7 linked regions of the Homo sapiens genome follow. The protein of the gene in region 3 interacts with the protein of the main gene of each other region in a pairwise test. Each region holds a gene or a part of one and is shown on either strand. Other genes may lie near its edges. The genes, in order: EDARADD, FAM118B, SUMO1, HNRNPC, ZBTB26, FSBP and MBD1.

Region 1 (4,507 bases), on a different chromosome or scaffold from region 3:
AGAAGAAGAAGAAAGAAGAAGGAGAGGGAGAAGGAGAAGAAGAGACGAGACACAAACACCCTGGGAGAAGATGGTCATGTGCTAACGAGTGAGAGAACGGAGTGATGCCTCTATAAGCTGAGGAGTTTCCACGATGGCTGGCAACCACTACAAGCTAGAAGAGACAAGGAAAGATTCTTCCCTATGGGTCTCAGAGGGAGAATGGCCCTGAGGACACCTTGATTTCAAGCTTCCAGCCTCCAGAACCAGGAGCAAATACATTTCTATTGTGAAAGCTGCCCAGTCTGTGGTATTCTGTTGCGACAGCCCTAAGAAACTAGTAAGAGGGACACTTTGGAAAGATCACTTTGTCCCCAGCATGGAGAAGTAATTAGAGGTAGCTGAGCCCCAAGGTGAGCATAAGGACATAGCTCCAAGGGAGGGAAAGAAAACCTGGTATCAGGAAGTAAGCAGGATACCAGGGAGAACTGGAGAGTCACAGGTGGGGGCAGTGGGAAGGGAAAGAAGGCAAACTGAATAACACTTTATAGAAACCAAAGGCTTTAGTAACAAGCTACTCCAGAGACATATAAGCCATGGCCACAGGGTTGTTCTTCGTTCCATTTTGATCAGAGTGAAGAGACTGAGAATTTTTCATAGGAATTTCCAGTGGGTATCAAAGCTTGACCCCCTACGCTGTCTACAATTTACCAAGCCAGGGGTAATTAAAGGACAGGAAAACAAACACCTCAGGTCCGCAAGACACCTAAGATTTAAAGACATTTAGTTGAATTACATGAAGTGTATTCTGTGTCGCTGTAACTAAATCAGTTAACCAAAACTTTTCATGAGTTGGTAGATCCCATCCTCTGAGGATCTGGAACAGAAGGAATGTGTCCTACACAATATGCCCATCACACACGCTGCCTGACAGAGAGCACCGCTTTGGCCCTCAGCAAGAAGCAGTGCTGGGCAGGAGCACAGGGCTCCGGTCTAGGTGGCGGCACACTTCCATTAACTGTCCTTTCTGCATCTGTAGGATGGGGGTACGTGCCCCACCATCTCAAGGGATGGTTGGGAGGATCTTGGGAGGTTGAAAAATAATGATGGCAGCCATAAAAAAGAACACAATTCTCTCCTTTGCAGCCACATGGATGCAGCTGGAAGCCATCATCCCAAGTGAAATAACTCAGAAACAGAAAATCAAATACTGCATGTTCTCACTTATAAGTGGGAGCTAAAGAATGGGTACCCATGGACATAAAGATGGAAATAACAGACACTAGGGACTCCAAAAGGGGGGAGGGTGGGAGGAGGGCTCAGGGTTGAAAAATTACCTATTAGGTACAGCGTTCACTATGTGGGTGATGGATTTATGAGAAGCCCAAACCTAACCATTATGCTATGCATCCACGTAACAAAGCTGCATACGTACCCATGGAATCTGAAATTAAAATGATAATAATAATAAAACCATAAAATGAATTTTAAAAAACCAATATATGTGAAATCTTTGGATACCCTTAAAGCAATAGCCTCAGAATGGTTACGGGAGGGTGGGGAGAGGATGTGGCTCAGAAGGCAGCTGCTAGAACTAAACGCTGTAACTGAGGTAAATCCAATAGCGTGTGTCCATCTGGCATCCCAGGCTGCTCCATTACCAGACCAGTAGTATTAAAAACAGGCAAGTAGGCCAGGTACGGTGGCTCACATCTGTAATCCCAGCACTTTGGGAGGCCGAGGGTGGCAGATCACCTGAGGTTAGGAGTTCAAGACCAGCCTGGCCAACATGGTGAAACCCCCACTCTACCAAAAAAAAAAAAAAATTAGCCAGGCATGGTGGCACATGCCTGTGGTCCCAGCTACTTGGGAGGCTGAGGCAGGAGAATCGCTTGAACCTGGGAGGCAGAGATTGCAGTGAGCTGAGATCGCGCCACTGCACTCCAGCCTGGGTGAGAGAGCAAGACTCCGTCTAAAAAAAAATAAAAATGAAAAATGAAATAAAAAAAAACCAGGGAAGTGGGTAAAGCCCTCACATAATGTAATATCACCTCCAACATGAGCAAAAGAAGAAAAGAATCTAACGCCATTTTTAGCCTGGAGAAACCCAAAGTTTATTATTATCACGTAGAATACCAAGATAAAGCAGTTATCTTAGAAAAATCTTACTTTGGGGTTTCTGATGCACATGTAAATACTGAGTAATAAAAACGTAAAGAAATAACAAAGAAAAAAAGCAAAACAATAATTATCACCATTAGTGTAAAATTTGTCACCTACCATATTAAAGGATAAAGTGCTAGGGTCTGTGTCTTCCACTGGTTCCTTTACCATATGATCTGTAAAAAGAACAAAAACAAACAAATAGAGCGGGTTTGCTTTAATTTAAAACCACAAATGAGTCCTTTGATAACTGTCTCTATACAGAGGCAAGTAATTTTACTTAGGCTGAAGAAAACCTTACTCCTTTTTTTTTTTTTTTTTTTAAGAAATAGGATTGGCTGGGTGAGGTAGCTCATGCTGTAATCCCAGCACTTTGGAAGGCCAAGGCGGGTGGATCACTTGAGGTCAGGAGTTCGAGACCAGCCTGGTCAACATGGTAAAACCCTGTCTCTACTAAAAAATAAAATAAAATAAAAATAAAAATTAGGTGGGCGCCTGTAATCCCAGCTACCCAGGAGGCTGAGGGAGGAGAATCGCTTGAGCCCAGGAGTCGGAGGTTGCAGTGAGCCAACACAGTGCCACTGCACTCCAGCCTGGGAGACAGAGTGAGACTCCATCTCAAAAAAAGAAAGAAAGAAAGAAAAAAGAAATAGGGTTTGCTCTGTAGCCCAGGCTGGAGTACACTCAGTGGCACAATCATAGCTCACTACAACCTTGAGCTTCCGGCCTCAAGCGATCCTCCCACCTCAGCCTCCCAAAGCACTGGGATTACAGGCATGAGACACCGCACCTGGCCTGAAAGTCTTACTTCCAATTATTAGTTGAGACAAAATAAAGAGGAACAGATTCAGATTGCATCAAGAAATAGATTAATAAAAAGAAACTATAGGCCAGACGCAGTGGCTCACGCCTGTAATCCCAGCACTTTGGGAGGCCAAGCCGGGCAGATCACCTGAGGTCAGGAGTTCAAGATCAGCCTGGTCCAACATAGGGAAACCCCATCTCTACTAAAAATACAAAAATTAGCCTCGCATAGTGGTGCACACCTGTAGTCCCAGCTACTCAGGAGGCTGAGGCAGAAGAATAGCTTGAACCTGGGAGGTGGAGGTTGCAGTGAGCTGAGATCACACCACTGCCCTCCAGCCTGGGTGACAGAGCAAAACTCCATCTCAAAAAAATAAATTAATTAATTAAAAATATAAAAAGTAACTACATAAAAAACCCCACCATATTTTGGAACAGGTTACCTATAAATATCTTCAAATACCCAGAGTTACAAACAACCACAAACTATGCAGGCATCACATTAATGACTCTCTTGCCTACTGAATTTGACACTACCTTCGGCAGGAATGACTCCATTCTGAATCTACTTCTTTCCTGATTTCCTATTTTGCTGCAACTCATTTTTCTTAATCTTCTGAATGTTGTTTATGTGGACTAATAAAGAAAAAACCATAGTTTTTTATCAAAAATAATCTTGATTTCTCAATATTTTGTTTCTGATACTTTATCACTTGATGCATTGAAGGAATTTAAAGGGGAAATACGGAAAAAGGCACAGACCTCAGTCAGGACCTAATTAGTACAAATTAGAAAAGTTTCCCATCTCCAAAATGCTTTATAAGACATCTGCCAGAGAGCTGTCTCAGTAAATAATCAAATCTTTTTGCGTGGGATCCTCCAGATTTGTGCAGTGAACGACCTGCAGTACCCTAAGTGGCAGTCGTGGGTCCGCCAAGAGTCAGCATTCACTTTTGATCCAAATCCTCATTAAGTACATATTGCAGACTAGGAATTAGGTCCTGGGAATGCCTTTGGGGATCCAAATAAGCACAGCAGGACAATTTGTCAAGATAATAATTTGTGTGTGTTCTTCCTAGGTGTTTCCCAGCTGAGAATGTGTCTGAACTTTCCACAGTTTCTTTGCCCTGCAGGTGTTGATAATGCCCAAAGAAGTTTCGAGAAGGCAACATCTCTTTGTTTTATGCAGCCTCCAGTCACTGAAGAGAAATGGGGACGAATGGAGAGAGCCTTTGCCATTGCCTCCCATGGAGCAGGATACAGACATCTGCAGAGCATGAAGGTGGCAAGACTGCATCAGAGACAGCACAGAGCAGCCTAACCCCCGGGGACCGCGGCCCAGCACCAGCAAAGAGACCTGTGCCCTGTGTCCAGCACAGAAACAGAGGGCTGCTGGGTCTCAAGGGACTTCTCAGGCCAGGACCATAAGACAGCAATGCCTCCCTGATGCACTACAAATTTGAGGTCCTTTCCTAGTTTTTCCCAGCACCACATGAACCCCTCAGATTCCTGTGTGGCCCTAAGGGACAGAGCCCCAGTTCTGACTGAAGTGGAATTTCCT
Region 2 (4,507 bases), on a different chromosome or scaffold from region 3:
TTTTTGTGTCCATGTTCCTAAGAGATCCTGGCTGGTTTGTAGTTTTCCTTTTTTTTTTTTAGAGGCAGACAGGGTCTTGCTCTGTCACCGAGACTGCAGTGCAGTAGCACGATCACAGCTCAGTGGAGTCTTGAACTCCAGGGCCCAAGTGATGCTTGTGCCTCATCCTTCCAAAGCGTTGGGCTTACAGGCCTGAACCACTGTGTTTAGTCATTTTCATTTCTTCTGATGTCTTTTGTTTGGTTTTGTTATCAGGATAATATGGGCCTCATACAATGAGTTGGAAGTACTCCCTCCTACTCTATTTTTTAGCATAGTTTGGGAAGAATTTCCTCTAGCCCTGTCAAGCAATAATCTACTTTCTGTTCTATGGATTTGCCTGTTCTGGACATTTTATATGAATGGAATCATACAATATATGTCCTTTTGTGTCTGGCTTCTTTTACTTAATGTTTTCAAGGTTCATCCATGTTGTTGTATGGGACGAGCACTTCATTCCTTTTAATGGCCAATTAACATTGCATGGACAGACATTTTGTTTCTCCATTCATGAACTAGACATTTGAGTTGTTTCCACTATTTTGGCTATTATGAATAACGTTGCTATGAACATGAGTGTACAGTTGCTGCATGAATATGCTTTCCATTCGCTTAGGTATATACTTATGAGTGCAGTTGCTGGTTCATAGAATCACTGTTCAACTTTTTGAGGAACTGCCAATCTGTTTTCCAAAGCAACTGCATCACTTTACATTCCCACAAAGGTTCCAATTTCTCCACATCCTTAATAACACTTATTATTGTCTTCTTGATTCTAGTCATGCCAGCGGGTGTGAAATGGCACCTTGTTGTGGTTTTGATTTGTATTTTCCTAATGACTAATGACGCTGAACATCTTTTCGTATGCACTTATTGGCCGTTTGTGTATCTTCTTTGGAGAAATGTCTATTCAACTACATCGTTATTTTAAAATTGAATTATTAGCCTTTATTAAGTTACAGTAGTTCTTTATAGATTCTGGATATTATACGCCTATGAGATATGTGATTTGCTAACATTTTCTCATTCTGGAAGCTGTCTTTTCACTTTTTTTTTTCTTTTGGTAGAGACAGGGTCTCACTATGTTGTCCAGGCTGGTCTTGAACTCATGCCCTCAAGCAGTTCTCCTGCCTTGGCCTCCCAAAGTTCTGGGATTATAGGCATGAGCCACCATCCCCGGCTCACTTTCTTGACAGTGTCCTTTCAGCCTAACAGTTTTTAACTTTGGAGAAGTCCAGTTTATCTATATTTTTTTTTACTTTAGTTTTTTGCATTTTTGGTGTCATGTCTAAAAAACCACTGCCAGATCCAGTCATGAAATTTTAAATCTGTATTTTCTTCTAAGAGTTTTACAGTTTTAGGTATCATATTTAGGTCTTTGATCCATTTTTAATTTTTATAAAGTGTATGGAGATTCCATGAACTCTTTAAAACCCCATTAATTCCTTTTTTTTTTTTTTTTTTTGAGACGGAGTCTTCCTCTGTCGCCCAGGCTGGAGTGCAGTGGCGCGACCGCAACTCAGTGCAACCTCCACCTCCCGGGTTCAAGCCATTCTCCTGCCTCAGCCTCCTGAGCAGCTGGGATTACAGGTGCCCACCACGCCTGGCCCTAGAAGCCTGATTTTTAAGATTTTAAAACAGGCTGGGTGCAGTGGCTCATGCCTATAATCCCAGCACTTTGTGAGGCTGAGGTGGGCAGATCACTTGAGGTCAGAAGTTCGAGACCAGCTTGACCAACATGGCAAAACCCTGTCTCTACTAAAAATACAAAAATTAGCTGGGCATGGTGGCACATGCCTGTAATCCCACCTACTCAGGAGGCTGAGACAGGAGAATCGCTTGAACCCAGGAGGCGGAGGCTGCCATGAGGCGAGATCGAACCACTGAACTTCAGCCTGGGTGACAAGAAGAAGATTCCATCAAAAAATAAATAAATAAATAAATAAATTTTCAGACAAAGCAAGACAGGGAGTCCTTTTATCCAACTCAGTTTGGTAAAATAAGGTGCAATTCCTTCTAAATATTTTGACTTATTACCTCTAAAAAGAACACTAAAAACTGGTTTTGTTTCATGTATAAAATGATAAAATTATCTCCAATCTTTGTGGGATTCCATACAAGGCATGGATGCCACAGAACACAGCTTTTATAGTAGTGATGCAGGAAAAAAATAAATTCAAAACACAGTGGTAATTTGTACATATAAAGTCCTCAACATCATTTCTCTCTCATAGACACACAGTGAAATGGGGTTAAGACAACTGTCCTGAGTAGGGTCCATAAACAGACATTGCGCAGAAGAGTCAAATGTTATGGAAACCTACAAGCTGTAAATGAATATCCCTGTTACATTTGGCATGCTAGTTTTGACAGCCAAATCATGCTAGTTGTGATAGTTAAATTTTAGGAAATTCCAAATACTGTGGCACATACTAGGGTACTCACAGGAGAGAGTTTCTGGATAAGGTCATGGGCAACATGGACCAGGTTCTTGTCTTCATGGAGACATTTCTGAAACTTTTTGCTCTCCTCATCTTCTAAAAGATCAAAATCAATGGCAGCATCCAGTAAGGCCTGAATTAACCCCTTCCAGGATTTGAGGGCTGGAACTTGGGGCGCAACTGCAGCACTAATGCCTGTTCCAATCACTAGCACAAGTTCTCGAGGCTTCTTAGTTTTTAAGCTTGGAAGCAGCTTCCTATAAAAGCAAAACAAATGAGAGGATTGGAATATCCAATAGATATGAGGCACACAGAAAGACTGTCTGACTCAGGTTACAGTTTTTAGCTAACTTTTATAGTTGCAAAGAAGATGAACAGCAGTTTTTGACACCTTTCCAAAGCAGTTTAAAGAAAACAACCAGAATATTGTGTCAGTGCTTGCTGAAAAACAAGTCATAAACCTATTTCAGGAATCCCAAAACCAATCTTAAAATCAGTTTTCCCTTCCTAGTCCTCTCAACCTAAGAAATTCCACTAATATTAGGAAAAGATCCAAATAGACTATAGCTCAGCTGACTTCTGCCAACTAAATTATATTTTAAACCAGTATTAAATTTCAAAAGAAGACGTTTGATTTGTACTCTAGAAAAAGAGAAAAGAACCCCAGGACAAATTAAGTTCCTATTATTGAGAAATGTAAAACACTAGGGGAAAGGCAATACAAAATTTAATTCTGAATTTTGTAAACATTAACCTCAGGCAAAAAAAAAAAAGAAAAAAAAAGTGGCCAATAGAATTCTGAAAACACAGGGGCCCTACATACCTAAATAAAGACATTAACTAATCAAAGGACATGACAAAAAGTGAAAAACATTCCTTTCTTACCATGATAAGCAGAGACAGACTTCTCTGTTCTGAGGCCCATATGTGAGACAGCATGGGTGCTAATTTTTGTTTTTGTTCCCCTCTCTTTCATTCTGGAGACTATCCCTGCTTGAAATATGTTCCTTCACATTAATTTTTGCTGATGGCATGTTCCCCTCCCCTGAAAATGGCTTCTCCCCAACCTTTTTGTCTAAATAATAAAATGGAGAGGATCAGCATTTTGGCATAACTCAAGAAAGGAATAGCACTTTCAAGCCTTGGGAAACCTGGTTTTGGGGACACAGCCTCTAAAACTGCTTTCCCTAACCCGAGCTTCTGCATTCAGTCATTCAACAAATATGAAAAACCGAGGCCAGGAGCAGTGGCTCACGCCTGTAATCCCAGCACTTTGGGGGGCCAAGGTGGGCTGATTACTTGAGGTCAGGAGTTCAAGACCAGCCTGGCCAACATGGTGAAACTCTGTGTCTACTAAAAATACAAAAATTAGCTGGGTCTGGTGGCGCACACCTGTAGTCCCAGCTACTAGGGAGGCTGAGGCAGGAAAGGAAAACCTGTATGTACCAGACACTACGGGAGTCATGTATCCATGAACAAAATGGAGTCCCTGATCTTGAAAGATCAGTCTACTAGAAAAGACATTAATAATAGATGTTAGAAGCAAATGATGAAAAATGAGTTTCAGTTCAGAGCAATCAAGATAGTGAAGCATACACAAATCCACATAAACAAATATACACACACATAGAAAATTTCTAGGATTCACAAGATGTATAAATAGTGGTTAAATGGGGATAGCAGAGAATAAGGACTTTTTACTTTTCATTTTATACTGTTGTACTGTATTTTTTTATATAACATACAGATTTGAACTATAATTCTTCCTAATTAAGACTTCCAATTTGGCTAAGTGCAGTGGTTCATGCCTGTAATCTCAGCACTTTAGGAGGCTGAGCTTGAGCCCAGGAGTTTGAGACAAGCCTAGGCAACTTAGTGAGACCCCATCTCTGCCAAACAAAGAAAGAACGAAAAAGAAAATTAGGCACGTCTGTAGTCCCAGCTACCTGGGAGGCTAAGTTCACGGGAGGATCACGTGAGCCCAGGAGGCTGAGGTTGCAGTGAGCTGTGTTTGTGCCACTGCACTC
Region 3 (4,507 bases):
ATGCTAGAACATCAGGGCCAATTGGAAAGTCATTATGAACACTTGCATTGGTCGATCTTATTTATCACCACAAGCCTGAAAATGCAATGTCCTGAAAAAGGTGACCTCTCTGTGCACACGTAATTTTTAAAAAGGAGAGGGTAATATGAAGGGGACTGAGGCTTGATCACCAAAAATCAGCACAATGAAAACAAACAATAATGAATAATGAGCACTAGAATTCAAATTACCAGATGTTTCAAAGAGATGGGGTGCCAGTTTTCAATTCCGTTTTGAACACCACATTACAAAAGAACTATTTTTAAAAATAAAAAAGGATTGAGGGAAAAGAAAAAAAATAAAAAGAATATCTAAACTGTTGAATGACCCCCCGTTTGTTCCTGATAAACTTCAATCACATCTTCTTCCTCCATTCCCAGCTGTAAGAGGAAAGAAAAATGTTAGACTATAAAAGCAGTTTTTAAATTGACTACAATTACGTGGCCACTAATTTAAAAGTGCAAAGAGATCCAAATGTGACCCATACTTACACTCCTCTAATATTAAGAATCCTGTGTTCTTTAATCTAAAGAATATAGAGGTGTCTTTCCTTCTGATTCTGTCTATTTAGTTATGCATCTTACTTTCCTGAGTCAATTTCACTTCCCAGTTTATTCGCTATATAAAACTGAAGTGTTTTTGACAGCCATGTTAAAGAACTTTTAAATCTAATGAAACATGTATTTAATAGTTTAAGTGATAGTTTAATAGGATATATCTAATTTGGTGTTTGTTTGTTTTTGTTTTTTGAGACAGGGTCTCATTATATTGCCCAGGCTGGAGTACAGTGGCACAATCTCAGCTCACTGCAACCTCAGCCTCCTGGGCTCAACCTCAGCTCACTGCAACCTCAGCATCCTGGGCTCAACCAATCCTCCCAGCTCAGCCTCCCAAGTAGCTAGCACTACAAGCGTGCGCTACCATACCTGGCTACTTTTTCTATTTTTAGTAGAGATGAGGTTTCGCCATGTTGCCCAGGCTGGTCTCAACTCCTGACCTGCAGTGATCCAGCCCGCCTCAGCCTCCCAAAGTGCTAGGATTGCAGGCGTGGGCCACTGTGCCTGACCAAAAAGTTTTAAATTTTATAGGTAACATTTTTGTGCAGAATTTTAAATATGAAAATAAAGTATGTTAAGAAATCTAAACATAACACATGTGAATTTAGGATTTTAAAGTGATCAGAATGGCTCTAGTAGTGTTAAGCTATCTTGGTTGTGGAACATATTTGAATATTTAAATAATTATTAAACATGCTTTTAGGCCAGGTGCAGTGGGTCACACCTGTAATCTCAGCACTTTAGGAGGCTGGGGGGGCGGCAGATCACCTGAGGTCGGGAGTTCGAGACCAGCCTGACCAACATGGTGAAACCCCGTCTCTACTAAAAATACAAAATTAGCCAGGCGTGGTGGTGCATGCCTGTAATCCCAGCTACTCAGGAGGCTGAGGCAGGAGAATCGCTTGAACCCGGGAGGCAGAGGTTGCGGTGAGCCAAGATTGTGCCATTGCACTCCAGCCTGGGCAACAAGAGCAAAACTCCATCTCAAAAAAAAAAAAAAAAAGATGCTTTTAAAACAATTTTAATTGCCCATATAGCATGGTAAATACTGCAAGGAATAAAATTCCAAGTGTTATTAGAAACCTTCAAAACAGGAAGACAGCATGAGTCCTTGAGCTATAAAGAATATAAAGCTACAAACTTCAAGAAGTACATTAACAGAGACAAGTGAACAACAGCACAGGAGGGTCACTCCCTAAAGACCTACTGTCTCCCACTGCACCAACATTCCTCTGAAAAAATAATCTCTTAATTACAAGGAATGTGTAAGGCATGTGTCAGTAAAATGTATTAGATATCTACTGTATGGTCCCAGAGATTATGCCAAGTTAAAGGAAAGTAAAAGATGAGTTTGGAACTTCTTACTGTGCCAGAAAGTAAGGAAGTGTTCAAGAAGGTGGTGGACACTAAACCTAAGGGGAATATTTGATGAGAAAGGGGATATTCGCATAGTTTCAAAGTGTGTCCCCTCAAATTACTTAATTGTAACAGGAAAAACAGTTAACTACAAAGTAAAAAAAAAAAAAAAAAAAAAGAGACAACACTTAAACTAAGTGATCAAAGCCTGGGCACATAGGGAGACTCCATCTCTACAAAAAATTTAAAAGCAGAGCATGGTGGCACATGCCTGTAATCCCAGCTATTCAGGAGGCTGATAGTGATAGGATTGCTAGAGCCCAGGCATTTGTGGCTGCAGTGAGCTATGACTGCATTCTAGTAGTCATACTAGAAAAACATAATATTTTTTTTTTTTTGAGACAGGGGACTCCTCGCTCTGTTATCCAGGCTCGTCTCGAACTTTTGGGCTCACTCAAGTGATCCTCCCGCTTCAGCCTCCCAAGCAGCTAGGACTATAGGCGTGCACCACCAATCCCAGCTATCAAATGCTGCACAATGTTATTTTATTTTATTTACTTTATTTTTGAGACAGGTTCTCACTCTGTCACCTAGGCTGGAGCACAGTGACATGACCAGGGCTCACTGCAGCCTCGACCTCCTGGGCTCAAGTGATCCTTCCACCTCAGCCCCCCAAGTAGCTGGGACTACAAACATGCACCACTAAGCCTAGTTAATTCTTTTTTTCTTTTTTTTTGAGACAGAGTCTCGCTCTGTTGCCCAGGCTGGAGTGCAGTGGCGTAATCTCGGCTCACTGCAACCTCTGCCTCCCGGGTTCAAGCGATTCTTCTGCCTCAGACTCCCGAGTAGCTGGGACTACAGGCACATGCCACCACGCCCGGCTAATTTTTGTATTTTTAGTAGAGACGGGGTTTCACCATACTGGCCAGGCTGGTCTCGAACTCCTGACCTCGTGATCCGCCCACCTCGGCCTCCCAAAGTGCTGGGATTACAGGCATAAGCCACTGCACCTGGCCAAATTTTTTTATTTTTAGTAGAGACGGGTTTTCGTCATGTTGCCCAGGCTGGTCTTGAACTCCAGGACTCAAGCAATCCACCCACTTTGGCCTCCCAAAGTGCTAGGATTACAAGTATGAGCCACCGTGCCTGGCCCACATGCTGTGCAATTTTAATTGGTGAATCTAAGGAATAGTTATACAGGAGAGTATTACACTATTCTCACAATTCAGTAAGTTTGAAATATTTTCAAAATAAAAAGTTAATAACCCTATATTGTTCCCACTATCAGAAATATCAGTAATGTTACTCTGTGTATGAAGGGAATCTATGTATATAGATACACACACACATACACACACACACACACTACTTTGAGATATCTCTATAGAGGGAAGATGGGTGGAATATAAAAGCAAAGCAAACTGCTCATAGAATAAAAAAATCAAATGAAGACAGAGAAGCATAAAAAAATAGGGTAAAACAAGATGACAGAGCCAAATATATTAATATACACTATGCTTCTGTATTAACATTCTCAAAATAGGTCAAAAATGAAAATCCAGCCATTAATGTTACCATCACCATGAAAGTATACCAGAAATTTACCAAATTTGAGGAACATTTGTCTATCTTCAAAAAGGATGTAGCATGTGACCTATGACAATTTCAGTACTCATTTTGTTTCTACCACCCTTTTTATTGGCACTTTTAAAGGCACTATAGGGGAAGTTCAACCCAAAACATTATTTCTTCTCTCCAACAAATGATATGCCATTTAAATCAGAGAATATTCAAGAAAAGGGCAGTTTTAACACCAGTGAACCAAACTGCTCAAAGGAGAATTTAAATTTTTTCTTGACTCAGGAGAAAAGTATACTCACTTCTTTTGGAGTATGATTATCAGCAATTCTCTGACCCTCAAAGAGAAACCTGAGTGAATTCATTGGAACACCCTAAAAAGGTAAAGATAATAATAATGCATACATACACACACAAATATTAGAAAACATAATGGTAACTTTGATGCACAAAAAGCAAGCATGAAAGCCTTAGAACACTACATAGAAAATAAAATTAGACAAGCTAATTCAATCATAAATACTATATACTGTACTGAGTAGCAACTATTTGCAAGGCCCTCCCTGTACCAATTCTTTACATACATAATCATAAGTGTTAAACACAACAACCCTGGAAGGTAGGTATTACCACCTTATCTTCATGTTACAGCTAGGGAACCTAAGGCTTGGAGCTAGCCAAGAATTTAAGCCCAAACCTGTTTCTAAGCCTATGCTCTTGACCACTACTCGATTCACTTTGCCCTAAATCTGTAAGCTAGAATAAAAGATCAGATCAGAAACTGGACGTGCACCCTCACTAGCTTCCAACTATACTGGCGAAATTGGTTTTAAACAGATTACATCATAAAATTTGGTAAAGCACAAATGGCTAGCTAGCTAATCTACCATAAACCTGGATGGCATAGATAGCGCAATATTACAAAATATATTAGTATACATTTTTCTAATCACTCTTCAACAAAAATAGCTGAAAGG
Region 4 (4,507 bases), on a different chromosome or scaffold from region 3:
TCACCGGTTCTGTATATATACACACAGCATAGCAAACGTCAAATTCTGTCCCAAGCCATTCATTAGCTAGATTAATATGGATAGCTTACACTTACCCATTAAGTATAATTTTCTTCAAAAGGCAATAAATAGAATCAATTCATTTACACTGGAAACACCTATTTCCAGATACTTCAATTAATCTGCAGTATGCTTTAGATACATAAGTATCAATACCATCTTTTTACAGACTGCAATGACTCGAAGGCTACTTTTTATATAACCTAAAATATAGGACATTTAATAATATCGGATGGTGATGATGATAAAACTAGCCAGTGGAACACGGCATGAATCAAATTAAAGATTGGGGAATTAAAGAAAAATACACAACTTTCCACGCATTATTTAAAACCAAAAATTATCTGTCTTTATGTATGTGATGGAGGCTCAATCCTACCATAACCATATGCAGATTCACAATACCATCTCAGGTCCCGTAAAGCGAAAATGTTTTATTTCATTCTTTTAGCATTTTGTTTCCTGCCTCTTCCCACTCCAACCCCCAATCTTGAACAAGATTTAAAAACATTCTTAAGATTGATTTCCCCTTCATCCCTTTGAAAGGTACTGATAAATCTCAAAAGATTCCAGTATTTGTTATCCTTCCAATCCTCAAGTGAATCATGACAAACTAGTTCTCACGGATGATGTAAAAAAGTCTAATGTATACATATATGTACATAAAAACAGGTAGTTTAACACCATTTCATATATACATGACTCCTATCATTCTGATGCTTAATACAGTCATTTAACAGGCAGTACTGATTTAAAAGCTCAAACAAAACTTCACTTCCTTCCAAATCTTTCTGAAATTCAAAAGTCTGTCTTTGTTACTTTCTAAAGTATATCTTTACAAAAACTTCTTAATATTTTAACACTAAGCAATAAAAATTAACAAACAGTAGCCACTGAAATCCACCAACAGCCTTTCAGCTATTAAGTATGCCAGAAAGTCTGAGGACACTAAAAAGAGGAATTAAAACAAAAATCTGCATTGAGGCCTAACTGGTTTCAGATACTACTGCTGGTTATTAAGATTTCCCATTATTACAAGTGGAGGTATAATCTGGTTTTAAGCAACTATTTTTCACAAATAGGTTTATCAATAGAAAATATAATCTCCATAGGTTTAATGAGAAGAAATTACCAGGGGTGAGGGGCTCCGTAAGCCAACACAGAATACTGACCATAAGGGAAAAAACCCATCAAACCACAGTCCAATGTTCCAAATGGACATTTGCAGAAAAATACAGATGTGATTGAAAGGGGTACCCTTTGGAATAAGACAGAAATGGATTTAAATGACCATTTTCTCAATTTTCACAAGTCTGAGTACATAGCTAGTATTATTTTCACAAGTCTGAGTACATAGCTAGTACTAATCAAGATGCAAGGAATTCATACCCCACGGCATTTTTCATGTGTATCAGGCCTTAATTCTCTCAAAGATCCACAAAGGAAAAACTCAGTAGAAAAGCATCCAGGCATACAAGGATGCTAGCAATGGTTGTTATGAGTTTAAGGATATGATTTCTCATTTTCTTTATGGTCTGGTTATTAAATTTGCTACAAAAATCATCAACTACTTATTTTTAAAATACAAAAATCCCAACTTCCAAAGTTTGCCTAAAATTAATAAAATACCCATACTTACTATGAGGACTTAAATTCAAGATGGAGGCAACAGTAAAGACAGACGTACTCACAATACGGATTAATTCCACTCTTAGTAACGTGTCCTCCTAAGGAATGAACAGTCACTACAAATTCATTCATTTTGGGGATCAAATATTTACTAACCATGTGCTGAGTACCACATTTCAGGGAAAATCCAGGGCACAAATAGTAACAAAGACTGTCCTGAGAGCTTCCTTAAATTCCAGTGGTATTGCTACTTCAAATTTTATGGAAGAGGTACATTTCCTGAAGTTTTAGAAATAACCAAATGATGTCAAGTCACACTTCATTCTACTTCAAAATTTTAAAGTATCATACAGGTGAAATTTCCATAAAGGGAGGACGATACTGTAACACAAAGAAACTACTGGAAAAGAACTGGGATTCTTGGAAGGGGTCAGCAAGAGCAGAGTAGTTTTTGAATCTCTGACTCCCAAAATAAGACTCAAGATGGCAAAATCACTATCCTACAGACAGCATTTAAATCAAAATTCCAAAATGCAAGGCAGTAAAGGCAAGCCAGCATATATGGTTTCACTGACTGTGGGAGAAATAAAAGGTAAGCAACTTGGAGAATAATAGACTTAGAAATACAAGAATACCAAAATAACCAGCAGTTATTTATTGAAAAGCAACAGGAACGAAATTTTAGAAAAGCAGTTAAAACTTAGAAGTTTCACCTGCTCCAATAGTGGGTGAGCACAAGGGACTTCAATAAAAATGTGTGAAGGTGCAAGAGCAGTTGCATCCCTGTAAAGTCTCATAAGTAAACAAACCCTATGTGGTTGATTCCACTGCCAATCCCCCTTCCTCTCACCAAAAGGTAACAACCATTATGACTTTACTAGCACTTTCTCACTTTTAAAATAATTCTAATGCCTAAATGTATAACTATAGACATTCTAGTCTTCCCAGAAAAATAAACGTGATGCATTTGAAGCATTTTTGTAGGTAAGTTCCGCTTCTATTGCATTAGGTTAAAATTTATCTGTTTAAGAATCCACAGTATTAACTTGTAGTTTCCCAGTCTGTATTTTCCAGGATTGATACTCTCAGAACAATTCCACATATTCTTCTGTAACTCTTGAAAGCAGCAGCTGGGACCAAGGCTTACTCAGCTTCATCTGCAATATTTTGTCAAGACTACCTCGTCCTACAAGTGGCAATACCTTTTTGTGGTGTTATTGATGCTTAAACAATACCATTTCTCTCTAGGTAGTATGGTGTGGTTTCTCGAGCACCACTTTTAACATGTTACGCAGACTGTTGTTAGAAATCCTAAGAACAGTCCCTCAGTTCTTTCATGTAACAGGTTGCCAGCATCCTTTTATAGTAGTACAATAGTTTAGATAAGTAAAACAAACTCCTTGATCACATTTTTTTTTTAATTTTTTTGAGTTGGAGTTTCACTCGTTGCCAAGGATGGAGTGCAATGGAGCAATCTTGGCTCACTGCAACCTACGCCTCCCTGTTCCAAGTGATTCTCCTGCCTCAGCCTCCCCAGTAGCTGGGATTACAGGCATGCGCCACCAGGCCCGGCTAATTTTGTATTTTTAGCAAAGACCAGGTTTCTCCATGTTGGTCAGGGTGATCTTGAACTTCTGACCTCAGGTGATCCGCCTGCCTCGGCCTCCCAAAGTGCTGGGATTACAGGTGAAAGCCACTGCACTCGGCCCTGATCCCATTTTCTTGCCTTGTTACTCCCTTTACATCTGGAAGGTGTAAAAACCACTTGTAGAATGAATAGGTCTACTTTTGCTTTTTGCCTCATACAGATCTAAATTACTTGGTCATATTCTATATGAATTTTTATAACCGAGTTCTAACAACTAACAACCCAATAGTAATAAATGTCCAGCAATAATAGTCTTTTAAAAATACAACTTCAAGTGATGTGCAAATTATAATTTGAGTCAAAAAAATAGTATCTGAAAACGTACAATACATAGGAGACATAAATGAACTACATAAAAATCATTTAAGAACGGACAGTACAGAAACACATCAAAATATCTTAAAATGTTCTGTGGGTACTCTGCTTGTGATTAATCTTTACAATCATTTTCACAGTTTCTCTGTATTTCCCAAATTCACTACAATGTACATACAAGCTTGGGATTTCTGTAGGAAAAACTCATTTAAGCCAAACAAATATTCCTTAAAACAGAAAATCCATTTGGTAGAAATTTTAAAAGGTTAATCACATTAGTAATAATAGTCCAAGTCTTAATGCACCTGTATATACTCAAATATTTTGAGGTCAATGCCCCTCATCATCATATTTCCCCTCTTCTAGTTGAAGGGGTCTAGAATTTTTCTTTTTTTAATGCAAGCTAACCCAGGGATCCTACTCTATCACCATTTACTAGTATGTAATAGTCGAATAATGCTGTTAGATAATAAAATGGCACTAATTTACATGAACTAGATTTAACATTAAGAAATCTGGGGCTGGGTGCAGTGGCTCACACCTGTAATCCCAGCTCTTTGGGAGACTGAGGCAGGCAGTTCACATCAGGTCAGGAGTTCAAGGCCACTCTGGCCAACATGGTGAAACCCCATCTCTACTAAAAATACAAAAATCAGCCATGCGTGGTGGCCTGCACCTGTAGTCCCAGCTACTCGGGAGGCTGAGACAGGAGAATCGCTTGAACATGGGAGGAGGTTGCAGTGAGCCGAGATCGTGCTAATGCACTCCAGCCTAGGCAACAGAAGGAGACACTGTCTCAAAAACAAACAAACATACAGTTCAAATATTCCAGCCTCCATTATTTGTAAATCAGAA
Region 5 (4,507 bases), on a different chromosome or scaffold from region 3:
TAGCTCACTGCTGCCTTGGCACCAAGGCTCAAACAATCGTCCTGCCTCAGCCTCCTGAGTAGCCAGGACTACAGGTGCACACCACCACACCTAGCTAATGTTTTTATTTTTTGTAGAGGCAGGGTCTCGCTGTGTTGCCTAGGCTGGAGTGTAGTGGCGCAATCAAATCTCGCTGTAACCTAAAACTCCTGGGTTCAAGCAGTCTTCCCACAAGGCCTCCCAAAGTGCTAGGATTACAGGCATGAACCTGTTTTAAACACTTAAAAAAAATTTTTTTTGATAGTTAAAAAAAGTTTCTTATGAACCATCTTAATTTTATTTAAAAATAAGAGAAATGATACCTAATCTTCCTTGCTACATTTCAGGTATAGATGTTATACCTAAATTGACCCATTTAGGCCGAGCACAGTGGCTCATGCCTGTATTCCAGCACTTTGGGAGGCTGAAGTGGGCACACTGCTTGAGCTCAGGACTTTGAGATCAGCCTGGCCAACACGGTGAAACCCCGTCTCTACAAAAAATACAAAAATTAGCTGGGCGTGGTGTCATGCGCCTGTAGTCCCAGCTTCTTGGGAGGCTGAATGGGAGGATGGCTTGAGCCCACGAGGCAGACGTTGCAGTGAGCCATGATCATGCCACTGCACTCGTCTGGGTGAAAGAGCCAGATCCTATCACAATAAATAAATAAATAAATAAATAAATTGACCCATTTAATCGTGAAAATTTCTACAGGTAAGTATTACCATTATCCCACATTTTGTATATGACGAAACTAAGCTTAGAAAACATAAATAACTTGTAAACCCCAACGGAGGTTGAAAGTGTTAAGTGTTAGATCTGGAACTGGTGGTTTACACTGCATGATGCCAAAATCCAGGTATGAAACAACTAATCTAGGTACAATTTTTTTTTTCTTGTTTTGAGATGTAGTTTCACTCTTGTTGCCCAGGCTGGAGTGCAATGGCGTGATCTCGGCTTGCTGCAACCTCTGCCTCCTGGGTTCAAGTGATTCTCCTGCCTCAGCCTCCTGAGTAGCTGGGATTACAGGTGCCTGCCACCATGCCCAGCTAATTTTTTTTTTTTTTTTTTTTTGGAGACAGAGTTTCACTCTTGTCACCCAGGCTGAAGTGCAATGGGCTTGCCGCAACCTCCACCTCCCGGATTCAAGTGATTCTCCTGCCTCAGCCTCCCCAGTAGCTGGGATTACAGGCAGGCGCCACCACGCCTGGCTAATTTTGTATTTTTAGTAGAGACGGGGTTTCTTCATGTTGGTCAGGCTGGTCTCGAACTCCCGACCCGGGTGATTCACCTGCTTCGGCCTCCCAAAGTGGTGGGATTACAGGCATGAGCCACTGCGCCAGGCCTAATTTTTGGATTTTTAGTAGAGATGGAGTTTCACCATGTTGGCCAGGCTGGTCTTGAACTCCTGACCTCAGGTAATCTGTCTGCCTCAGCCTCCCAAAGTGTTGGGATTACAGGTGTGAGCCACTGCACCTGGCTGGTACAGTTTTATCTCAAGGATAATAATTGTGTAACTCGGCTAGGTGCGGTGGCTCACACCTGTAATCCCAGCACTTTGGGAGGCCGAGGTGGGCAGATCATGAGGTCAGGAGATCGAGACCACGGTGAAACCCCGTGTCTACTAAAACTACAAAAAAAAAAATTAGCCAGGAGTGGTGGCGGGCACCTGTAGTCCTAGCTACTCGGGAGGCTGAGGCAGGAGAATGGCGTGAACCCGGGAGGTGGAGCTTGCAGTGAGCTGAGATTGTGCCACTGCACTCCAGCCTGGGCGACAGAGCGAGACTCCGTCTCAAAAAAAAAAAAAAAAAAAATTGTGTAACTCTTCAGATTTCCTTCCTTACATTCAGTATCACAAACACAGGCCAAGAAAATTCATTGAGCTGCACACTTATGACTTGTATATTTTTGTTTTTGTTATGCTTCAAAAAAAGGTTTATGTTTAAAAACAAGTTATAACTTCAAGCCAAATTTGCATGAAATTAGAAGACTTAAATGGCAAGCATATATGTATTAGTCATATTCCTGATTGCATATTATGCCTTTATCCTTATTATACCTTTCTCATCTATTTTACTTTATATTATTTTCCATCTTTTGTGTATTTATCTTTGTGGACTGAAACTTAATGCCATTTGCAAATAAAGCAGACAATAAAAATTATGAATATATTTGATTTCACAATCCCCAACTGTAGGTAACTTCTAAGTATAGCAGTAATTACTCAAAATAATCATAAAAATCACTCAGATAATTCTAGGTTATAGTCAAGCTTCTTGTAACTGAAGGAAAGTAAAGAACTGATCAGGTAGATCAGAGACACAGTCATCATATTTTGTTGATTCTTTCCTCAGAATGATCACCAACTCCTCACTCCTCCATTCTTACATCATTGCCATAGTTCAGGTCTTTATTATCTATTGCCTCAGTTACTGAGATTAAATCTGAATACTGTTGAGTTTCTATTAGCAAGTTTTGAATGATATTTCTCAAACATCAATGTAATGGGAATATTCTCACTTCCTCTTCATTTATATTTATACAATCCTTCCACAATTATAACTAATTTGAAATTTTCCCTTTGTTCAAATGAGGATAGTAAAAAATGACTAATTACTGAATATTCCAGGTGGGACAATGTAAATTGCTATACTACAGGCAGTGAGAAAATAGTTTCTTTTCTCAAATGCTTCTAATAACTACTGGCAAGTAAAATTTTTCTATCTGTATAATAAATTCTTAAGCTAGGTATCAGTTTGCTTCCTCACCTGTCTCATAAAAGTGCCCTTATCTTTCAACTTACCACTCAAAACTACTTGGAAATCTTTGTCCCTCATTGACATGGTATGTTCTTTTTCTAAAGAGGCTGTATTATACTACAGCCTTTCTCTCTATAAACCTTAATCTTGTTCTTCTTTTAGGTAACTTTCATGACACGATACTCTCCAAGTTATCAAGCTTTTGTTTCAACTTTTAAGTAATATATACAGAATGTATTCTTCTTGAAAAATTTTTGAAGATTTTAGATGTAATTCCCCTTCTCAACTGCCTACCACTCAGTATTCAGTTTAAGTTTGATCCTTCCTGACTCTCCCTCCTTGCATTTTGTTTATTTATTTATATATTTATTTATTATTTTTTGAAACGGAGTCTTGCTCTGTTGCCCAGGCTTGAGTGCAGTGGTGCAATCTTGGCTCACTGCAACCTCCACCTCCGAGTTCAAGCAATTCTCCTGCCTCAGCCTCCTGAGTAGCTAGGATTACAGGCATGCACCACCAAGCCCGGATAATTTTTGCATTTTTAGTAGAGATGGGGTTTCACCATGTTGGCCAGGCTGTTCTTGAACTCCTGACCTCAAGTGATCCATCCGCCTCGGCCTCCCAATGTGCTGGGATTATAGGCATGAACCGCTGTGCCCGGCCCCTCCTGGCATTTTAAAAACAATACTTCTATATGTCTAGCCACAAAAGTATAACGTAATTAAGTTTCTTATACATAAACTATACATATTGTTTTGCAACTTACTTTTTTCACTCATTGTTTTTGAAAGCAATTTATGTTGATGAATATAGATTTAATTCTTCTTTTGATTTTTTTTCATTTTTTGAGACCAAGTCTCGCTCTGTTGCCCAGGCTGGAGTGCAGTGGTGTGATCTCGGCTCACCGCAACCTCAGCCTCCCAGGTTCAAGTGATTCTCATGCCTCAGCCTCCCACCTCCCAAAGTGCTGGGATTACAGGCGTGAGACACCACGCCCGGCCTAGTTCTTTTTTTTGAACTGTTATGTGGAAGTGGGCAAATTACTTAACTATTGAACTGTTTTCCACCATTGTTTTGCTGGTCTGTTCTTTGAGGCTTCACTAAATTGTATAAGGGTAAGTATCTCTTTCAAAGCTAAGTCTCCAATTTTTTGCTATTTTTTTCAAAAAGCCTGTCTTCTGTTTCTCAATGTTTTATTACCTCCCTATGTTAACAATCCCTAAATCCCAATCCCCATGGCCAAACTTAACCAAACTAAATCTCAATTCAAGGTACTCAAAAATACCTGTTCTAGGCTATTTCCCTATCACTTGAAATGCATGATGCCTGCACTCATGCACTGTCTAAACTTCAATAAGCCAAAAAAATTTCTTATGGAGAATGGCTTGGAGAAAAGTACAAGGAAGCATTTTAGTATGTGATTACTCTAAACAGATCAAGACAGAATGGCATGGGCCTGAAGAGAGACAACAATAATATGGATGGAGAGGGGAAACAGATTTGAGAGACATTTCCAACAAAGAACTGATGGGCTTGGTGACCAATGTGGGGAAAGGGTCAAGATGACTCCAAGATATTTGGTTTCTGTAACTGGATATCTTTGATGAATGTCATTCAGCAAAGCAGGGAATATTGGAGGGCATGATCATGAGTCTGGTCTTGAGCCAGAGAAGCCTGCATGACATCAAGGTGAGGATTCATGAGCTGGATGGATATGAAGAAAAGATCTG
Region 6 (4,372 bases), on a different chromosome or scaffold from region 3:
AAATAAATAGTGAACTCTAGTAATACTCATGCTGAAGTACTTAAGGGTAAATTATTCTAACTCTACAACTTGTTTCGAAGTAACATTTTTCCTTTAAAAAAAAGAATTGATGGATAAATAGGTGATGAAGCCAAGTATAGCAAAACATTAATTGCAGAATCTATGTGGTAGATATATGGATACTTACTATAACTATCTTTTCACTTTTTCTGTATGTTTGAAAGGTTTCTTAATGTTAGGGGAAAAAAAACTTTGTAACAGAGGTGAATTCACACATAAATTTTAAAACAAAAAAGACCTGCTAGCAAAGTGGAATTATAATGATATATCCTTTTAGTTTAAGTTGTCAGGACTGATATGAGCGATATTTTTATTTTTATTTTTATTTACTCATTTATTTTGCTTTCCACTATTACAAAGCAATTGGAAACTAAAAATAAATAATATGTTCAAATTATAACTACTAGCTTTAATCAATATAAAAGATTTATAAAAATATATTGAACAATTTCTCAAAATCGTATACAAAGATTTTGCTTGACTGTTAATGTTTAATTAGATTGCATATTCTAAGAACTTACTCTTGTTTAAGTATGCAACCATATTTCATCTAATTACTTTTAAGTGTTTACAATCAAATTCACCATCAAATATTTGATTTTGAGAAGCTGTGGCTCTTAACATTTGAAAAAAGAAATGAAATGTGATATTTAGATATGGTACATTGGCCATCTATTATAACATAATCATCTAAATAAATGTATTTCAATTATACCTCATCAAAAAATTTTACCTCTACAGTACTGAATTATTTGTCTTAACGGCACACAAAAAAAGTACACAAATCAGTACAAAGTAGTATCTTGTATTTAAAAGAACATGTGTTAACAAAGCATTTAACCATCATTATCTACAGTATATATTAAACACAATTTATTACACTCTAAGTTATTTAAACATGTGTATTTAAAAGTTGACATTACTCCAAAAGAAGGCACATGAAAAAAACTCATAGTTTAAACATTTTCACATAAGTAAAGATAGAACAGGGTAGAATGACTCCTTAAAAAAAAAAATGAAATAACACCAAGTTAATATCTCATCATACACAAAAGAAAAATACTTGACTATTTTAAGAAATCTGGTATTCGTTAGAAATGAGTTTCACTGACTTTTCTCAGGATGTCATTATAAATCACAGCTAGTTTAGAAAATCATAAGTTGTAACAACATATCCATTACATTCATATGGATAAGAGAAAGATAGGAAAGTGGCTATCCACTATCTAAATTACTAATATATTGGATGAAATAATCTATATACTTAGTATATTTATCAAATGTAGTATATTTCTACAGAATCAAGTCTACATTTAAAAAACAAAATCACTCTTCTCTATGTTCTCCCAGCATTACATTTTGTAATTAAAGCTCATGGACCCCAAACAATTGTCTATGATATGCAAGATGTCTGGTGGCTTAAGTGTATAGTCATCCCTCAGTATCCAAGGGGGATTGGTTTCAGGACACCCCCTACCCCATCAAGATCCACAGATACTCAAGTCCCTTATATAAAATGTTTGTATTCACATACAATTTACACACATCCTTCCATATACTTTAAATCATCTCTAGATTACTTACAATGGCTAATATAATGTAAATACTATGTAAATAGTTGTTAGGATACAGGACAAGTGAGCCCCAAAACTGGGGATTAGCCCAACTCCTACCTCAGTTATACCGTCTTTTTAAATTTCGTATTACTTTTTATTGTTGTACTGTTATTTATTTTTCTGCCTGAATATTTTCAATCCACAGTAGTTCAATCTGCAGATGTGAAACCTGCAGATAGAAAGCCAAGTGTACATTCCATTGTACTAGCAAACTTTCCCCTATATATTCCCCTTAATGAAACTTGTCCTCAACAAAAACTGCTAATGTTAGTTGGTAAGTAGTCCCCTAACTCAAAAAAGTCTCAATACAAAAAAGAAGAAAAAAAAAGGTTTGGTTCCAAATTACCCTAAGATACTCTGTAAGATAATAAACAGCCTCGGAAAAGGATTCTATGGTCAAATAAATAATTTTCTTTATACAGGAATTCTCATAAACTATACTATGTTAATCATGGTTATACAAGGGGAGGTAGACAATGAGGAGAATTATATGCATTTAAACTTTTGCAAATTAAAAGTAAACAAGACTGACTTGGAGAAAAACAAGATTGACTTGGAAAAGTTGCTGCAGTAAACTCAAAGAGTGTGATTCTGGTGTTTAAAAATATGTAAAAATAGGTTTCTTATTGTATACAGCCCCTAAATGCTAATGAATTGTGTCACCTAACACACTAAAGAAAAAGCAATCTTAAACAATGCTGCAGAAAAATATGATTGTAGCAGACTATGTTTATGCTATTTTATGGGCAGCAAAGGAATTTTCAAGGGCTATTTTGTATATACATAATTTTTACCTTCCACAATTATTTTAGAACCTAACCACCAAAAATAAAAAAGATGTATACTGCACTTTTTTTTAACACAGATCTCTTTTCTAGAAACATCTCACAGAATTAATGTTCCACAGAACACACTTGGGAAAACTCTGATTTGCTGTAAAAGCCAACATTTAAATTGAACATTCATTATCAATTCTTAGTAGCATGCTGAAACTGTAAAGTGAATTACATCTCATATATGTGCTTTCAATAATTTCAAAAAATAAAGCTTACTACTGCCAAGATGTGTTTACTAGAATTATACTGGGAAACATTACCTCAAATTAAGAATTACAAGATTCATTAGACTCAAAGAAAAGTCATAGCACAGATTAAAGAGAAAAGGTAACATTGTCAAAAGGATATATCAAGTTATATATTCAGGACATCTTTATAATTAAAGAAGTTAACTCTACCAGCTATAAAACACCCTCTTTTTAATCCAACCAATGAAATTAAGTAGTCAACATGCTAAAATAGTACCTTGAGTTCATTTTTTTCTATTTCTATAGCCATAACTTAAATTTCTGATTTAAGTTCTTCCAATACAATGCCTGTCCCTAAATGCCACTCCTCCTAAATCACAACTATAATCAAATTAGCCCTCTAATTCAAAGCATTCAATGGCTTCTCATTGTACGTTAAGTCTGACTCATTAAAAATAGTATTTAGGCTGGGCACGGTGGCTCAAGCCTGTAATCCCAGCACTTTGGGAGGCCGAGGCGGGCAGATCACGAGGTCAGGAGATCAAGACCATCCTGGCTAACACAGTGAAACCCCGTCTCTACTAAAAACACAAAAAATTAGCCAGGCATGGTGGTGCGCCTGTAGTCCCAGCTACTTGGGAAGCTGAAGCAGGAGAATCGCTTGAACCCAGGAAACGGAGATTGCAGTGAGCCAACATCGCACCACTGCACTCCAACCTAGGTGACAAAGCAAGACTCCATCTCAAAAAAAAAAAAAAAAAGTATTTAATGTAATTCATAATCTGGTATCAACCATCATCCAAATTTATATCCCTCAGTTCACTTTCAACTACTCTTCGACAAAAATTTTGAGACTAGTATGATTTAGGCACCAAGCGAGGTTCCAAAATACTCTGTTTCACTGGTTCTCAAACTTTAGCATGCATCAGAATCGCTAAAGGGTTTATTAAAAGAGATTGCTGACACCCCCAGGGTTTCTAATTCACTTGGAAATGGATTTACATTTCTAACAAGTTCTCAAGTGATGCTGATGCTGCTGGTCAGGACCCATACTTGGAAAACCATTGGTCTACTCCAAAGGCCACAAAGTGGAAGCCCAATGGCTCAGTGAGGCCCACTCACATGTTGTCTGTATAATGTTTTAAAAGCATTTTGTGTTATTTGCAAACATTTTAAAATTGGAAGATTCCTCATTAAAAAATGCAGATTTCTGGTTTATCCCCGCATGTGAAAATTCTGCTGGAGCTAAACAGCAGCTACCCTACCTAGTCCAGGGAGATGTCCTTCCTAGTCCAGGATACTACAGCCCAAATTGACTCTCTCTACATTCACTTAAAATCAATGGCTTAGCACTGCATTTGTGCTTATATACTCAATCCACTTTTTCCCATTCTTTTGTCTTTTTTCCAGCGTCTCACTCTTGACTTCAAACACCCATGGTCCCCTTCACTGCTGAAATTACACCCACCCCATTCTACAACTTGGCTTAAAAATCCCTTCTCAACAAAACCCCAGCAAAAATAGAAATTCTTAAGTAACATACATATTAGAGATTTAATATAAATTTAATATGTATGCTTTAAGAATTGAGGTTTTATTTCCATGAATACTAAAATAACAATACTTATAAAATACATAAAATTTTAATTTTGTTCATTCTGATTTTTACTGT
Region 7 (4,507 bases), on a different chromosome or scaffold from region 3:
CAGTGCTTCTGGAGCAGGCCCGTGATCTCGTCCCTACCATTCCTGGCAGCGTGTGGGCTGTGGGGAGTGTGCAGCCTGCCAGGTAACAGAAGACTGTGGGGCCTGCTCCACCTGCCTCCTGCAGCTGCCCCATGATGTGGCATCGGGGCTGTTCTGCAAGTGTGAACGGAGACGCTGCCTCCGGATTGTGGAAAGGGTGAGTTGGGCAAGTGGAAAGAGCCCAAGGCTCACCTCGGCCCCTGGCCCCCATGGGCTTGGCCCCATGCTTCATGCCTCTGCTCCCACCTGCCCCCCGCCAACAGAGCCGAGGGTGTGGAGTATGCCGGGGCTGTCAGACCCAAGAGGATTGTGGCCATTGCCCCATCTGCCTTCGCCCTCCCCGCCCTGGTCTCAGGCGCCAGTGGAAATGTGTCCAGCGACGTTGCCTACGGGTGAGTTGGGCTGGAGGGAGCAGAGCTCATTCTGCTGTTAAAATCGTCGCTGCCTCTGCTTCCTTTCAACCTGGCCTTGCCTACCTCATGTCTTTCTTTTCTGCCTAACCCTATGCTCGCCTTTCTGGCCCCGCCTACCTGCCTCTGTCTGCCAGCACCTTGCTCACCGCCTGCGTCGCCGTCATCAGAGATGTCAGCGACGCACTCCCCTGGCTGTGGCTCCCCCAACTGTGAGTGCCTCACGCCACCCTCTGTCTGCCTGTCCCATGCATGCTTTCTGCACTTAGGGTGTGGGGAGTTTCTGTGTCTGCCTGGTGCCACCAAGCTGAAACCACCCTTTCTGATCTTTCCCAGGGTAAACATGCCCGCCGCAAGGGAGGCTGTGACTCCAAGATGGCTGCCAGGCGGCGCCCCGGAGCCCAGCCACTGCCTCCACCACCCCCATCACAGTCCCCAGAGCCCACAGAGCCGGTGAGGCCCCAGTGGGTGGAGGGAAGGCACAACCCTGACCTTACCCAGTACCTGCCCTGACCCCACCCCATTTGCCTCTACAGCACCCCAGAGCCCTGGCCCCCTCGCCACCTGCCGAGTTCATCTATTACTGTGTAGACGAGGACGAGCTAGTGAGTGGCCCCACCCTACCTGGATAAGCCTAGAATCTCAGGACGCTTGGTTAACTTCAAAGAAGCAGATGCTGGAATGAGCCTATTGGGGAACAGCAAGGCACAATAATGGGTCCTAGGATGGGATGAGTAGATAATGGAGGACTAATACGGGGTCAGCAGGTGCATGAGAGTGCTTCATGTCACATATACCAACACTCTGGTAGCTGATGTGGGGATTGACAGAGGAGCAGCTAGCATAGTGACTGGGGTTCACCTAGGATGAGCGACAGAGTAGGCACAGTGATGGGAGCTAATAGAGAGTTATCAAAATGTTGCTGGAAATGGGGGTCAGAGACATTTTCTTGGTAGCTAGTGGTGGCCTAGGAAATACAGCAGTGGATACTGTAGTGGAGCAGCCACAGTCCTAATGGTATCGAGGGCCAGCTGGCACAGTGATAGTGGCCAATGTTGAACTAGCGAATGCTGAGGAGTGACTAGTGGGGAGTCAGGAGGCTGAGACTAGTATGCAAGTAGCTCCGTCTTATGGGGCTAGAGGAGCACCAGGACCAGCACTGGAATAGGCGTTGAGGATGGCCTCTCCTAGTCCTAGTTGACAGCACCACCCATTCCCCCCACCCCAGCAGCCCTACACGAACCGCCGGCAGAACCGCAAGTGCGGGGCCTGTGCAGCCTGCCTACGGCGGATGGACTGTGGCCGCTGCGACTTCTGCTGCGACAAGCCCAAATTCGGGGGCAGCAACCAGAAGCGCCAGAAGTGTCGTTGGCGCCAATGCCTGCAGTTTGCCATGGTGGGTGGGGCAGGAAGGGTCAGGTGGACGGGATAGGTTGGGCCAGGCGCCCCAGTGCCTGGAAGTGGTGGGCAGGCTTGGTAGGTGGGTGGGTGGGGCAGTAGCTTTGGTTGAGGATTAACAGACATTGTTCTTGGCTTAATGAGTCTAGGTGGCATTGGTGTTGCTAATAGGAGACTAGCAGGCTCAGTGATGAAGGGCTCATATGTAAGCAGATTCCGTGCTGGGACTGATGGGAGATTAGCAGGCATGTGGAGCCGGGCAGGGTGGATGTGATTGGTCAGGACACCAGGTAGCCATAGCACCCTATCTTTCCCCATAGAAGCGGCTGCTGCCCAGTGTCTGGTCAGAGTCTGAGGATGGGGCAGGATCGCCCCCACCTTACCGTCGTCGAAAGAGGCCCAGCTCTGCCCGACGGCACCATCTTGGCCCTACCTTGAAGCCCACCTTGGCTACACGCACAGCCCAACCAGACCATACCCAGGCTCCAACGAAGCAGGAAGCAGGTGGTGGCTTTGTGCTGCCCCCGCCTGGCACTGACCTTGTGTTTTTACGGGAAGGCGCAAGCAGTCCTGTGCAGGTGCCGGGCCCTGTTGCAGCTTCCACAGAAGCCCTGTTGCAGGTGAGGGCCCCACCCTGTCCTGCCTTCCCAGCCTCACCCAGCTGCATGCCAGGGAGCTGAGACCAAGTCTGCTGCAATCCTCCCTCACGCAGGAGGCCCAGTGCTCTGGCCTGAGTTGGGTTGTGGCCTTACCCCAGGTGAAGCAAGAGAAGGCGGATACCCAGGACGAGTGGACACCAGGCACAGCTGTCCTGACTTCTCCCGTATTGGTGCCTGGCTGCCCTAGCAAGGTGGGGGCAGTGATGGATGTTCTGTTGGTGCCGTAGCGGAGTGGTCTGTAAGCAGAGTGATGATGAGCCATGATGGTTCTCTTGAGCAGAGCAATAGATGTGCTGATTGCGACGTTTCTGCAGAATTACCCCGCCTGTCTAACAGACACCCTACCTCCCACAGGCAACTAGCTTTGCCCGCTTTGCTATCCAGCTAACAGAAAAACGGAGGTCAGTGAGGAATGGGAATGGGAAAGCTTTGTAGGCAGAGAGATGGACTTTCTGTGTTGAAATGTGATGGAAGTAGGATTTGTCAGCACAGTGAGGGGTTGGCTGATAGAGACTTTCCTCAGGTGAACTCTGCCCTTCTAATGGTTGCCTGTTTCCTACTTCTCCCAGGCAGTAGACCCAGGCCTGCCTTCTGTGAAGCAAGAGCCACCTGACCCAGAGGAGGACAAGGAGGAGAACAAGGATGATTCTGCCTCCAAATTGGCCCCAGAGGAAGAGGCAGGAGGGGCTGGCACACCCGTGGTCAGTGCTGGGGATGCCCCACCCTGCCCTGACCCTGCTGTAGCCCCAACAACCACATTGACCTATGGTGTTAATTCTTCTCTAGATCACGGAGATTTTCAGCCTGGGTGGAACCCGCTTCCGAGATACAGCAGTCTGGTTGCCAAGGTGTGCCCCACACAGTGAGGGGTGGGGAAGGAGTGGGTGTTGGCCAGATGTGGGCCCTGAGTTTTGAAAGTATAGCCGGCAGTTTGGCATGGTGTGGTGGGAGGTAAAGGCCCATACCCACTATGCTGGTCACAATTAATGAGGGGCGTGTGTGTAGGACCCTAGAGATTTCTCCTGAGATCCAGCCCAATAGCATTCCAGGTTAGGACTCTCCTTTGGGGGTAGGGGAAAGACTTGGTACTCTATCATGAGATTTGAAAGAAAAAGATAGGGAGTCTGGTCCCTATTTTCCTAAGGAATTTCTATAGGGGTCAGCTTTAATATATAAATTCTTATTCAGAGAATAATCATTTGGGTCTTGAAGGCCTTTAGAGTCTCCAGGAGACCTCTGGGTGGGCTGTTGCCTGACATTGAGCAATGTGTACCAGAGAAATGGTGCTGGGCTTGCCTGGGCAGTGGTATGGGCAGGAGATCTGGGTTCCGAGCTGGCTTTGTGAGCTGGGTTCACACGTAGTTGTGTGATCTCTGGTTGCCCTGCACTTCCTGGAGCGGCCTCTGTGGAAGGGCTTGGGCTGGATCTCTTGAGCCTTTCCTGAGCCTATTGAGGTTATTAACTTCAGATGCCTTGCAGAACTGTCCCTGTAGTCCTGGCATAGAACAAAGGGTAGATGCCTGTAAGGACTAGGGTGGTTGGGAGGACAGAGGAGTGCTGGCTCCTGCAGAATATTGACAGACCCTGCATAGAGCCCCAGACACTGGCGATGTAAACTATTGGCCTAAGCACTTGGATTCCTTTGCTCCTACAAACCAGCCCACCAGGCTAGAAACCCTTTCATCTATACTTGGCCAATTACAGAAGTATTGATTGAGTTCCTGTTGGGTGCACAGCATTGAGGACAATGAGCCCTGCAAAGCTTACCCTTCAGGAGACACAGGATACCTACCTTCAGGGAGCTTATAATCTGACTATGTACAAGCTGTCTATAATGGTAGTTTTTAGAAGATATAAAAAAAGATAAAGGATAATTAAGGGGAAGTGGATGGAGGACACAGAATAGTAGGAAATGGTTTTGTAATGCTCCATTGCGCACATAGCAAACCTCATTCAACATACAGACCTGCTCCCTTTTCCCTAGGTCCAAAGACCTTAAAA

The links.
Region 1: the proteins of SUMO1 (region 3) and EDARADD interact in binary tests that used the Homo sapiens proteins (3 or more experiments, as listed by UniProt).
Region 2: the proteins of SUMO1 (region 3) and FAM118B interact in binary tests that used the Homo sapiens proteins (3 or more experiments, as listed by UniProt).
Region 4: the proteins of SUMO1 (region 3) and HNRNPC interact in binary tests that used the Homo sapiens proteins (3 or more experiments, as listed by UniProt).
Region 5: the proteins of SUMO1 (region 3) and ZBTB26 interact in binary tests that used the Homo sapiens proteins (3 or more experiments, as listed by UniProt).
Region 6: the proteins of SUMO1 (region 3) and FSBP interact in binary tests that used the Homo sapiens proteins (3 or more experiments, as listed by UniProt).
Region 7: the proteins of SUMO1 (region 3) and MBD1 interact in binary tests that used the Homo sapiens proteins (3 or more experiments, as listed by UniProt).

Annotation. Positions count from the first base shown.
Region 1 is NC_000001.11:236,407,027-236,411,533, reverse strand, and holds part of EDARADD (ectodysplasin-A receptor-associated adapter protein), read right to left. Parts: intron 2,319-4,507; coding exon 2,260-2,318; intron 1-2,259. UniProt on the Homo sapiens protein: Adapter protein that interacts with EDAR DEATH domain and couples the receptor to EDA signaling pathway during morphogenesis of ectodermal organs. Mediates the activation of NF-kappa-B.
Region 2 is NC_000011.10:126,239,022-126,243,528, reverse strand, and holds part of FAM118B (protein FAM118B), read right to left. Parts: intron 2,738-4,507; coding exon 2,485-2,737; intron 1-2,484. UniProt on the Homo sapiens protein: May play a role in Cajal bodies formation.
Region 3 is NC_000002.12:202,206,903-202,211,409, forward strand, and holds part of SUMO1 (small ubiquitin-related modifier 1 isoform a precursor), read right to left. Parts: intron 3,905-4,507; coding exon 3,833-3,904; intron 1,101-3,832; coding exon of another isoform or gene 966-1,100; intron 420-965; coding exon 351-419; 3' UTR 1-350. UniProt on the Homo sapiens protein: Ubiquitin-like protein that can be covalently attached to proteins as a monomer or a lysine-linked polymer.
Region 4 is NC_000014.9:21,234,674-21,239,180, forward strand, and holds part of HNRNPC (heterogeneous nuclear ribonucleoproteins C1/C2), read right to left. Parts: intron 1,788-4,507; exon of another isoform or gene 1,700-1,787; intron 1-1,699. UniProt on the Homo sapiens protein: Binds pre-mRNA and nucleates the assembly of 40S hnRNP particles. Interacts with poly-U tracts in the 3'-UTR or 5'-UTR of mRNA and modulates the stability and the level of translation of bound mRNA molecules. Single HNRNPC tetramers bind 230-240 nucleotides.
Region 5 is NC_000009.12:122,924,695-122,929,201, forward strand, and holds part of ZBTB26 (zinc finger and BTB domain-containing protein 26), read right to left. Parts: intron 1-4,507. UniProt on the Homo sapiens protein: May be involved in transcriptional regulation.
Region 6 is NC_000008.11:94,426,867-94,431,238, forward strand, and holds the end of FSBP (fibrinogen silencer-binding protein), read right to left. Parts: 3' UTR 850-4,372; downstream 1-849. UniProt on the Homo sapiens protein: Transcriptional repressor that down-regulates the expression of the fibrinogen gamma chain. Represses transcription of GSK3B gene promoter via its interaction with APBA1.
Region 7 is NC_000018.10:50,271,524-50,276,030, reverse strand, and holds part of MBD1 (methyl-CpG-binding domain protein 1), read left to right. Parts: intron 1-49; coding exon 50-196; intron 197-302; coding exon 303-431; intron 432-586; coding exon of another isoform or gene 587-661; intron 662-785; coding exon 786-902; intron 903-985; coding exon 986-1,054; intron 1,055-1,677; coding exon 1,678-1,845; intron 1,846-2,167; coding exon 2,168-2,467; intron 2,468-2,559; coding exon 2,560-2,697; intron 2,698-3,075; coding exon 3,076-3,207; intron 3,208-3,292; coding exon 3,293-3,354; intron 3,355-4,490; coding exon 4,491-4,507. UniProt on the Homo sapiens protein: Transcriptional repressor that binds CpG islands in promoters where the DNA is methylated at position 5 of cytosine within CpG dinucleotides. Binding is abolished by the presence of 7-mG that is produced by DNA damage by methylmethanesulfonate (MMS).